Linked DNA regions of Homo sapiens: region 1 is linked to region 2. A link means that fine-mapping ties the variant in region 2 to the expression of a gene that starts in the linked region. Tissue or cell type: CD4 T cells. Region 2 holds a variant in brackets; the other region holds the start of a gene. All regions are shown on one strand. Distances are between the middles of the regions.

Region 1 (5,362 bases), 35 kb after region 2:
CTGGGCCCTGTCTCCTCTGTAAACTGGAGGTGAACGGCACCTACCATATGGAGCGGTGGAGGAGGTGGGGAATGGGTCAAATCAGTAGCTATAAATTGTAGAGTGGGGTGCATGTCCCCAGTGCAACCATCGAGTCGGACTTTTGTCTCTTTTGAAAAATTTATTTATTTTGAGACAGGGTCTCATTCCGTCACCCAGGCTGGATGGAGTGCAGTGGCACAGTCATGGCTCACTACAGCCTCCAACTCCTGGGCTCAAAGGATCCTCCTGCCTTAGCCTCCCAAGTAGCTGGGACTACAGGCACACGCCACCACACCCAGCTAATTTTTGTATTTTTTGTAGAGACGGGGTTTCGCCATGTTGCCCAGGCTGGTCTCGAACCCCTGGGCTCAAGTGATCCGCCCACCTTGGCCTCCCAAAGTGCTGGGATCTTTTCTCCTTTTGAGACTCTCCTGTGGCCTGTCCAGAGGCCACACTCCAGCCCAATTTCTACTTCCTGAGCTCTCCCTACACCAACCTCCATGCCCTCAAGCAAACCTCCCAGACCTACTCCTGGCAAAGATGTTCTGCAATACCACCTTCACCCTCATCACCCGGAAAACAGCTGCTAGTAAACAGCTGCTTCTTTCATGAAAACAGCACTAGAAGGCTGGGCGTCGGGCTCATGCTTGTAATCCCAGCACTTTAGAAGGCTGAGGCGGTAAGATTGCCTGAGCTCATGAGTTCAAGGTTGCAGTGAGCTATGACCACTCCACTGCACTCCAGCATGGGTGACAGAGTGAGATCCTGTCTTAAAAAAAGAAAAGAGGCTGGGGGTGGTGGCTCACACCTATAATCCCAGCACTTTGGGAGGTCGAGGTGGATGGATCATTTGAGGTCAGGAGTTTGAGACCAGCCTGGCCACCATGGTGAAACCCCGTCTTTACTTTACTAAAAATACAAAAATTAGCCAGGTGTAGTGGTGTGGTAACTGTAGTCCCAGCTACTCAGGAGGCTGAGGGAGGAGGACGGCTTAAGCCCAGGAGGCAAAGGTTACAGTGACCCAAGAGGGTCACTACTGCACTCCAGCCTGGGCAACAGACAGAGACTCCATCTCAAAAAATAATAATAAATAAAAATAAGAAAGAAAGAAAATACCACCGGAGACGCTACCTCCACAAAGCTCACACCTGCCCTTCTGAGGGCCACAGAATCTGGAACAATCTGAGAGCCTCCCCTCCCCCACACTCTGCACCAGGAGCTGCAGGTAAACCTTGGGAACCCAGGGCCTCTGGAGGTGGGAAGACAGACAACTGGGTGGGAAGCGAAGGCTGTGCAGCAAACGCCTTCCTGAGCTGCAGCCCCCTCAGCCTCCTGCACTTCCTGCAGGGCTGGCACTTGGCACTTCCTCTCAAATTGGCTGGCTTGTCACTTTTATGTCTCCTTTGGCCTCGTCTAAGACAATAATACAGTCATGATGTCACAATGGCAATGTCCTATTTACAGATTTTTTTTTCCCCAAGACAAATACTTAGATTTTAAACATGTCCTTCCACACACAGGCTAGAACCCCCTGTGATTCCCTGGGCAGCCCGGTCCTCACTCCGAGAAACACTGGTGTTGAGTCCACCCCTCACAGCCTCCATCTGCAAGATGGTGATGCTAGTGAAGGCCCACGGTCACATAGCCCTTCCAGACACATCCAGCCCACACTGGCTGCCCGTCCAGGCCTTGGACCCAGGGCCCCTGTCGTAGGTGGCTCGGCCTGGCCCCTACCTCCAGGCCCTTGGCTTCCCCCTCCCGGCCCTCCCTTCTCCTCTCCAGCAATGGCTGTCCAGGGAGGAAGCCCCCAGCCACAGATGTCCCTGCCCTTGACCCTGATGTGATGACACAGAGAAGAGGCAACTGCCTCACCCTCTGTACATACATGTTTAGATGAATGCATAGAAAGCTCCAGAAAGACCCGCTCCAGAAAGACCCACTCCAGATGGCCCATGCGGTCCCTGGGGGATAGAGGAGAGGCATTGCAGGGAAAGGGAAACCAGTCTGCTTTTTGGAGGCATCTTGGTTTCCTGACCCTCAGGCATGCACTCCTTTCAGAGGTTTTGTTTGTTTTTTGTTTTATAATTTCATAAAATTAGTTGAATTGGCCTTCCCTTGCCAATGTTTCCTTTCATTGAGAAAAGTCATGTGTGCTTGTAAATGTAAAATTACACCCTCGAGAAGGAGTGTGGACATTTGAGAGTCTGTGGTTCCTAGAATTCCAGATGGAACGGGCCACATGTACAACATTGTGGTCACAACCGCACTTTCTTGTCAGGCTGGGAAAAGCCAGTGACAAGTCGCCTCTGGTCCCCTGTTGAAGGGCCGCCTCTCCCAGCCATCTGCCCAGTAGGCTCACGGAGCCTCCTACTCCCCCAGCCCAGACCCTGCCCAGTGCACTCCCAGGCCAGGCTGCCGGGTGAGCTGCTTCCCACCCACTGTCCAGCCCCGTCCCCTGGGGCTCAAGCCACTAGGACTGGTGACACTCCATCCCCACACCCCACTTTTACCTGGCTCTCCTCCCCGGCCCCAGCAGCCGGCCAGGGTCTGCAGGGAGGTGGCCCGGCCCCCGCCTGCCCTTCCTCAGACGCGCCCAGGCTCACCCATCCGAAGGCTCCTTCCACGCTACCTAATGAGAGTGAGTCACATCTGGGACCCACCACTTCCTGCTCCGGCAGCGGCAGCAGCGGCGGCGGCGGCAGCAAGGCTAAGGCACAGCCCACAGCCCAGCCTCTCGGGGTGTGCAGGGCCCCCTCCCCCAGCCACAGTGCTGCTCTCCGCAGCCTGGGAGCTGCCAGGCCTGGGAGCTGTCGGGCTCCAATGACTTCATGGAAATTTGAAGCTTGAAGCTGGAACAATTTTGAAAAAATAATAATAAAACAAGCACCAAAAACCTCCATTAGAAGCCCCAAGACAACTGTTCAAAGTGGGGAGCAAATGCATCCTTAGTGAGCAATTAGCAATTAGCGGCCTGGCCTGAGCCTCCTGTGGGCTCTGACGCTCACAGACAGGCCCCCCGCGCCTTCCTGGGACTCAATTTCCCTATCTATGTAGTAAGGTGGCCCCGTCCACCTCTGAGAGGGGCCCAGGAGAGGTCAAAGATCTTCCAGCCCAGCCCACTGCCTCTCCATCTCACCTACGCTCCCATGCTGGGAGCAGGGCAGGGGCAGGCCCATCCTTGGGGCTCCTATTCCAAAATCAGAGTCCCTGGAGAGCCCCCAACATCCCTGGGCACCATGAGGCTGGGAATCAAACCCCAGCACCCCTTCTGCTATGCCAGGCCTCAGTTTCCCCACTGGGATCATGGGGCGCTCAGTGGCGAGGGAGCAGATCAGGAGAGGCTAAGAGGAGAGAGTGGAGACTCCCAAAACAGAGGGGGAGGCCTCCAGCCCGCTGGCCACAGCAGCACCTGGTCCTCAGGGAGCCCTTCTGAGCATGTGACTGGCATCCTGGGATTACGAGCTCCTCAAAGCAATGGTGTACCTCCTCCACCTCCCACATCCAGGGTCAGACACCCCTCTTCTGGTCTTCTAACCCCTGCACCTTCCTCCATCACAGCACCTCTGTGCTGTGACCACTGGTTGCTGGTCTGTCTTTCCTAGGTTATATCCTTGAGGAGGGCAGAGATGGGAGGGCAGCTGTAATATCAACAGCTGTGTCCCCAGCGTCCAGCCCCAGCTGGTCACAGAGTAGACATCCCACACATACTGATCAGGAGGAACTGAACATGTTAGGTGCTGTCTCTGTGCCAGGCCCCATGCAGGGAACTAGCAGGTGATCTAAGGTCTGCCATCTGGTGGAGACAGGCATAGGACTCACACAGGGTTCCAGGCTGCTCCAGAGGCCACAGGAGGGAGTGGGAGACCTCAGGGGATCCTCCCCATCAGGGTCGCCCTCCTATCAGCAAATGTCTCCCTAGCAAATGTCCCAGAGCAGAGAAGGAACAGACATCATCATCATCAAAAGAGGGGAAAGACAAGCCACTGACTAGGAGAAAGTCACATCCTATATGACTGACAAAAGACTCCTCCCTAGCATATATAAAGATCTCCCAGGCTTGGCATGGTGGCTCATGCCTGTAATCCCAGCACTTTGGGAGGCTAAGGTGGGCGGATCACCTGATGTCAGGAGTTTGAAACCAGCCTGGCTAACATGGCAAAATCCCGTTTCTACTAAAAGCACAAAAATTAGCCAGGCGTGGTGGCATGAGCCTGTAATCCCAGCTACTTGGGAGGCTGAGGCAGGAGAATCACTTGAACCTGGGAGGCAGAGGTTGCAGTGAGCCGAGATCACACCACTGCACTCCAGCCTGGGCAACAGAGTGAGACTCTGTCTCAGAAAAAAAAAAAAAAAAAAAGACCTCCCACAAACCAATAAGAAAAAGACAAATGGCCCAATTAAAAGATGAACAAGAGACTTACACAGGTACTTCAACAAAGAGGATGCCAAAATGACCAATAAGCACATGAAAAAGATACTCAACATCATTAGCCACCAGCAAATTAAAACCATATAGAGATTCCACTGTACCACTAGAATGGCTAAAATTAAAATGAAAATACCAAGTGTTGACAAGGAGGAGAAGCAGCTCTTCACTCTCATGTACTGCTAGTGGGAATGTAAAATGGAGCCACCATGATGAAAACTGCCTGGCAGTGTGGACAAAAGCAAACCATATGCTTCCCCAATGACTCAGCAATTCAATCTCAGGTATTTACCCAAAAGAAATGAGTACATGTGTCCACAAATGACTTCTATCCAAGTGTTCAGAGAAGCTTTCATCCTAACAGTCAAACTGCAAACCCAAACATCCTGCAATGAGTAAATGGATAAACAAATTTTCATATATTCACACAACAGAAAATTACTCAGCAGTAAAAAGGAACAGATCACTGCTAACACACAACATGAATGAATATCCAAGATGGCAAGGACAGTGAAAGACCCACCCACAAAAGACACATTCAGCACGTTTCCATTTATATGAAACTTCAGAAATGATGAAACTAATCTACAGTGACAGACAGCAAGACAGCGGTTGCCTCTAGGGAGGCCGCTGATTGGAAAGGGGCACACAGGAAACTTCTGGGGGCTGAGGAGGTTCTAAATCTCCCTGTGGGTGCTGGTTATACAGGCGAGTGCCTAAGTACACTCATTACCCTGTACATTGAAGGTTTGTGCACTTGCCTGTATGTAAATTACCCGTCCATTTTTAAATGGGTATTGAGGGATACCCGTTTGCGTATGCAGGAGGGCATGGTGCTGGATGCTCAGTAGATTCAGGAAAAAGAACAGATCTGACCTGGCCCAGTGGGCGAGAGGCTGATGAGACACATGCTCA
Region 2 (5,362 bases):
CCACTGCTCACGCTCTCACGGTGGTTGAGATGTGCAAAGGGCCGTGCCGCCCCCCAGGACTCGAGGTACCGGGTCATGCGCACTGACGCCCGCATCTTCAGGGCCGCGTCCCCCTTGGGCCTGGGGAGGTGTTGGCTGGGCGGGGGTGGCTGCTGGCTCTGCGGGCAGACATGGACATGGGCCTGTGCCACCTCCTCCCCTCTCGGCCCAGGAAGGGGCCGCCATCCCCATCCAGCTCTCCCTGAAGTGTGACGCCGCCCTGAGCCCGTGAAAAAATAAACAGCAAAGAAGTTGCTCAACCCGCAGTCCCCTTGGAGAGCGGCTGCCCTTGGGGACTAGCCAGCCAAAGCCTGGTGCACTCTGAGGCCAGGCCATATGGGGTCCCAGCTCGGTGCCCTGGCCTTTCCCCAGGCCGAGAAGAGGCTAGCAAGTACCCACCACTGTACCCAACCCCATACCCTGCTCTGCCTCCCCAGGGAGAGAGGCAGGGCTTGGGTCCCAAGCCCGAGGCCCCACTGCCCTTGAGGCTCCTTGGAACCAGAGAGTCCCTGGGGCCTGAGCACCCATCAGCTCCTCCCCAGGAGGCGCCTGGGAAAGCCACAGGCATCCTACCCTGCCCTCCCACGTGTGGCCGGCACGCATTCGCTCCTTCCTGTGAGAAGCAGCCAGGAGGAAGAGGGGTGCTAGCCGCCCCGAGAAATGGCCAAGCCAGAGGCCAGCCAACCCCCAGGGCAGCGATCCAGGGAGTTCCACTTGTGTGGCCCCCAACCGCAGATGGCACAGGGCCATGACCTGCCACGTGCCTGCGAGACCCAGCCTCATGCTGGACACTCAGTAGTTCAGCCAGGCCCTGAATGCACGGCCAGCCCTACCCGCCCCCACTCATGCCACAGACCTGAGACCCCCACCCCGATCCAAGAACACATGCCTGAGGCCTTCGCCAGTTGGGGTGGCCAGACAGGACTGGAAAAGGGACAGGGAAGAGAAAGACCCACAAGGCCACCAGAGATGAGCTTAAGCGGGCTCCAGGTCTGCTGAGTCTCTCCTTAGCCCCTGAAACATTCCTCTGCCTCCGGAAGTCCTGTCTCCTAGGGCCCCACAAACACCCCATGGACAAGCCTCCACAGCTACAAGCACTCGATAAGCCACAGCGCAACTTTCCTGGAAACCTCTCACCTCCTTTTGGGATAGAAACATTTTTAAGCCCTTAGCTGCATCTATCTGCCTAGCCACGGGAGCCACGTGGAATTCAGCCTCGGTGAGTGTCCCAGAGCAGGAAGAGCGCGCTGGCCCTGTGGTGAGCAACCTGGTGGGGGTGGATGCGTTTCTCTGTCCCCTCCTCCATTGTGACAACTCTGCCTACACAGCACCTAGCCACTCAAGTTCAAGGTCACTGGCACTTAGCAGAGAATCCAGACACCCCAGCCCCCTGAGAAACAAATAAAAAGCAGAAACAAAAATCAGATTCCTCAGTTCTGAGCAAACACATGCCTACTCGGAATGGGCATGGCATTGGTATGAGCCCCACGGGGGCAGCTGCAGCCACCATCCAGTCCACAGGAGCCCACCTTGCCCCAGCCAGGCCACACAGCAATGGCGTAAGGCAGAGCCCATAGAAGCCAGTGCAGAAAATCCACCTCCATGTCAAAAACAGGAGCTACAGACGAGCACCCTGCACACAGGAGGGATGTCCCCAAGGTAGGAAAAATGCAGGGTGCGCGACCATGGGGCCCGCCACTGCCACCTTAGCAAGAAGGGTGGGGGGACTCGCAGTTCACTCGGTGTCCGTGAAAATCCCTGTGGAGGGAATACAAGAAACTCACTGCACAGGTCCCCTCTGAGATGTGCCGGCTGGGGACAAGGAGTCTTTCTACAACACGCCCTTCACACCTTTTGAACTTTCAACTGCGTGGATAAATGAAGTTAAACAAAAAAGAGGGTGGGGTAGGGTGGGGTGGGGGGAAGGTGGGGCCGCCAAATAAATACAACTGTCCAGTTGAGTACTGCGTGCAACACTTATGCGAAACATGATTTACAGTTATCTGAAATTCAAGTCGGCCCAGGCAGCCTGCAGTTTTCCCTGCTCAACCTGGCAGCCTGCGGGGGTGGATTTTGGAGCCTCCTGGGTGAGGAGCTCTGCTTCACTCATTCAAGGGCTATCTGAGCACTAGCTTCGAGCCGGGCATCCATCTCAGCACGGGGTGGGGGGCTGCAGCCTGGAGAGGAGGAGCCCCCCGGCATGGCACTCATGCTGACAACAGACAAGGAAAATGGATAAACAAGCAAGGGCATTAGGGACGGAGGGAGGAGTGTTTTGAGTGCAGGGACCTGCGGGTGCCACCACCCTGGTAGTGGAAGGGCAGGAGGAGACCAGGTGGGGTGAGGGGGACAGGAGAGCAGGGGAAGGGGCTTGGAGGGGCGGGGCCAGGGCCGGGGTACAGGGCGAGGATCAGGGCCCTATTCTAGGAGGGTGGTGGAATGGGACACAGGTAC[C/A]GGCAGGGGTTTTCCCAGATGCTGGCTCAGTATGGATGGTGCAGCACTGGGGGTGCTGGGGGCAGAGTGAGGCCAGCAGATGTGTAGGGAGGCTCACAGGCCAGCCCTTGGTCCCCCAGGGTCTGGCAGTCGGGCCAGCCCCAAGGCATAGCGAGGACCAGAGTGAAAGGAGCCACTCGCTGGCTGGGCCGACATTCTTGAGCAAGCCTCATGGATGATTCACAGAGAAGTGGCCAGACGTGCCGGACTCCCTGAAGCAGGCCAGGGTCGGGCAGCAGACAGGCCAAGGCGGGCCCCACCTGGCCAGGGCAGTGGAACTGCCTCCTCCACCGTGGGGTCCTGGAGCCACCAGGGGACCTGCAGTCAGCACCCAGGACACTCAGAGGCTCCTGCCCAGTGGCTCCCAGGCCACTCCCTGCTTTCCTGAGTTTCATCCAAAGCTTGTTTTGAAAGTGTGTCTCTCGGAAATCTGGGAGATTAATAACCACCTCATGGAAAATAAACCAAGAGTGACGAGAATACATAGAATGCTGTGACGTGCCAGGCGCACTGTGAAGGCCTCGCTCGGATTAGCTCCTTCTGGTGAGGCAGGCGCTGTTTTCCCATCACATAGAAAAGAATGGAGGCCCAGGGAGTGGCTACTCGGTGCCTAGAATGTGCCTGGGAACAGGGAGCTCACTCCTGCCCAGGCAGGGCCCTTCCCCACCTCTCCCTCCACATGGGGGTTTCCTCCAAGGTGCGGGCCAGGCTCTCCAGGGCCCCTCCAGTCCCTCCGGGTCCCCCCCAGCTGCGGCCTCTGAGCCCTCGTACCCGGGGGTCGATGACCAGGTAGGTGCGGATGTTCATCTCCTTGAGGTAGGGGTCCCGCTGCTGCCCGTGCCCATCCTCCACCTCGTACGCCTTGTCCAGGTGCTTTAGCGTGGCCTCCGTGATGTGCACCCGGCTACGGGAGACCCAAGTCAGGCAGAGCCTTGGGGCCCAGAGAGGGCTGGCATCCACCCAGGGATGCACAGCAGGCAGGCCTGGGCCCCAGGCCAGCTTTTCTACATTCATCTCTCCCTCCACACCTGACCCCCACCCCCAACCGCAGAACCCTCCATCCACAGCCAGCCCCAGGCCTCTGTCCCTGCGGCTACCCAGCCCAGCCTCACCCGGGTACTCCGGCTGCCTCCATCCGGTTGGCCAGGGACACGTCGTGGGACCACACGTCATACTGCCACTTGCGCAGCCCGATGACCCCGCACAGCACATTCCCCGAGTGTATGCCCACACGCATGTTGATGTCCACGCCCGTGGCCTCCCGCACCTGCCTGGGGCAGAGTGGCCCAGTCACCCCAGCCCTGCCTAAGCCCTGGGACAGGCTGAAGCTCCCAGGTGTGGGGTGGGTACAGGGCAGCATGTGGGAACAGGGCAGGCGCTCAGCCCACGGGAGAGAATGTTCTCAGCCTGATGGGGCTGCCTCTTCAGGAAGAGCTGAGTGCCCCATCCCCAGGAGCATACAAGTAGGTGTGGCCACAGCTGACCTCAAGGACTAGGTAGGAGGGAGGAGGAATTCCAACTAGTCACTACAGCCCATGTTGATGGACCTAAAATACCATCACTGGGTGTTTTCCCTGCCCAGCAGCACCGGCTGGGTTTTAAAAGTTTACTGGGGGCCGGGCGTGGTGGCTCATGCCTGTAATCCCAGCACTGTGGGAGGCTGAGGCAGGCAGATCACCTGAGGTCAGGAGTTTTGAGACCACCCTGGCCAATATGGCAAAACCCTGACTCTACTAAAAATATAAAAATTAGCCGGGCATGGTAGCAGGCGCCTGTAGTCCCAGCTACTTGGGAGGCTGAGACAGGAGAATCGCTTGAACCCAGGAGGCAGAGGTTGTGGTGAACCGAGATACGCTCTGGGCAACACAGCGAGACTCCATCTCAAATAAATAAATAAATAAATAAAGTTTACTGGCGTCTACAGAGGGGGTCCAGGAACCACCCAAAACCTAGCATAGACAAGGAACACAGGGGCCCAGACCATGGGCACCTTCTATGCCCCCCCAATCCCTGGGAAGCAGGGGCCCTGGGAGTTGTTAGCACCACTGAGCACAGGAGCAGAGCCCCACGGGAGAGCTTCCTTGGGGCACAGGGGACGCCCAAGACAGGAACAGAGCCTGAGTCCCCATGACAAGCGGCACCACGTGTCCACCAACAAGGCTGGGCACTGACCAAGCCTTCCAGGGTCGGAACCAGAGGTGCACGAGGGCCTGTACAACCTCCGCCTGTTACAGGGCAGGGGCCAGCCTGAGGTCACACAGGCAGTGGTGCAGGCCAGGCCCCTCCAGCTCTGCCCAGGCTTCTTTCTGGCAACACCAGCCACCTATGGCAGGACTTCAGGAGAAGGACAGGCTGGAACACGGCCTGATATCCAGGACGGGCAGCCCCACCGGGCCCTGCTCTGCCCCACACTGGTCAGCCTGGCTGGGCCTGCCTGGCCCTCTCCCCATACAGCCCTCTCGGCAAATTCCTCCCACAGACCCCAGCTGCTCAGAGCCACAGGGGACCTAGAGGGGAGCGGGGGGTCTCCCCGCAGCCTCAGGACCAAGCCTGACTCCAGGATCTTCACTGGGGAGCAGGAAGCAGATGGAGCCTTGGAGTCGACCCCTGGGTCGGAAAGGTCCCCCGGCTGCCTACCCTGAAGCCTCCTGCTGTTGCTAAGACCCCATCCTTGAGGGGAGCGGAGCCCACCGCCCTGACCTCACATCACCCAGCTCTGAGCTCCGGAGATGCTTTCTGGGACTCAGAGTCACAGGCAGCACCACAGGGAGGGACGCAAACAGATGAAGTCTGAATCCTCCAGCAGGCTGGGTGGTCCAGGCAAGCTGCT

The links.
Region 1: ADCY7 starts here. The variant in region 2 is fine-mapped to the expression of ADCY7 in CD4 T cells (Kasela 2017, PIP 0.91).

What each region holds. Positions count from the first base shown.
Region 1 is chr16:50,263,850-50,269,211 of GRCh38, reverse strand. ADCY7 (adenylate cyclase 7) reads right to left here and starts at 2,661. Exons shown (of 26, transcript NM_001114.5): 1 at 2,532-2,661. RefSeq lists enhancers at 2,889-2,978, 2,924-3,517, 4,585-4,764.
Region 2 is chr16:50,299,156-50,304,517 of GRCh38, reverse strand. ADCY7 (adenylate cyclase 7) reads right to left here. Exons shown (of 26, transcript NM_001114.5): 9 at 3,645-3,803; 10 at 3,304-3,436; 11 at 1-158. Among named protein-coding and RNA genes, the nearest start is that of MIR6771, 9.2 kb to the right of the region's middle. The variant C/A (reference allele first, on the strand shown) is at 2,494.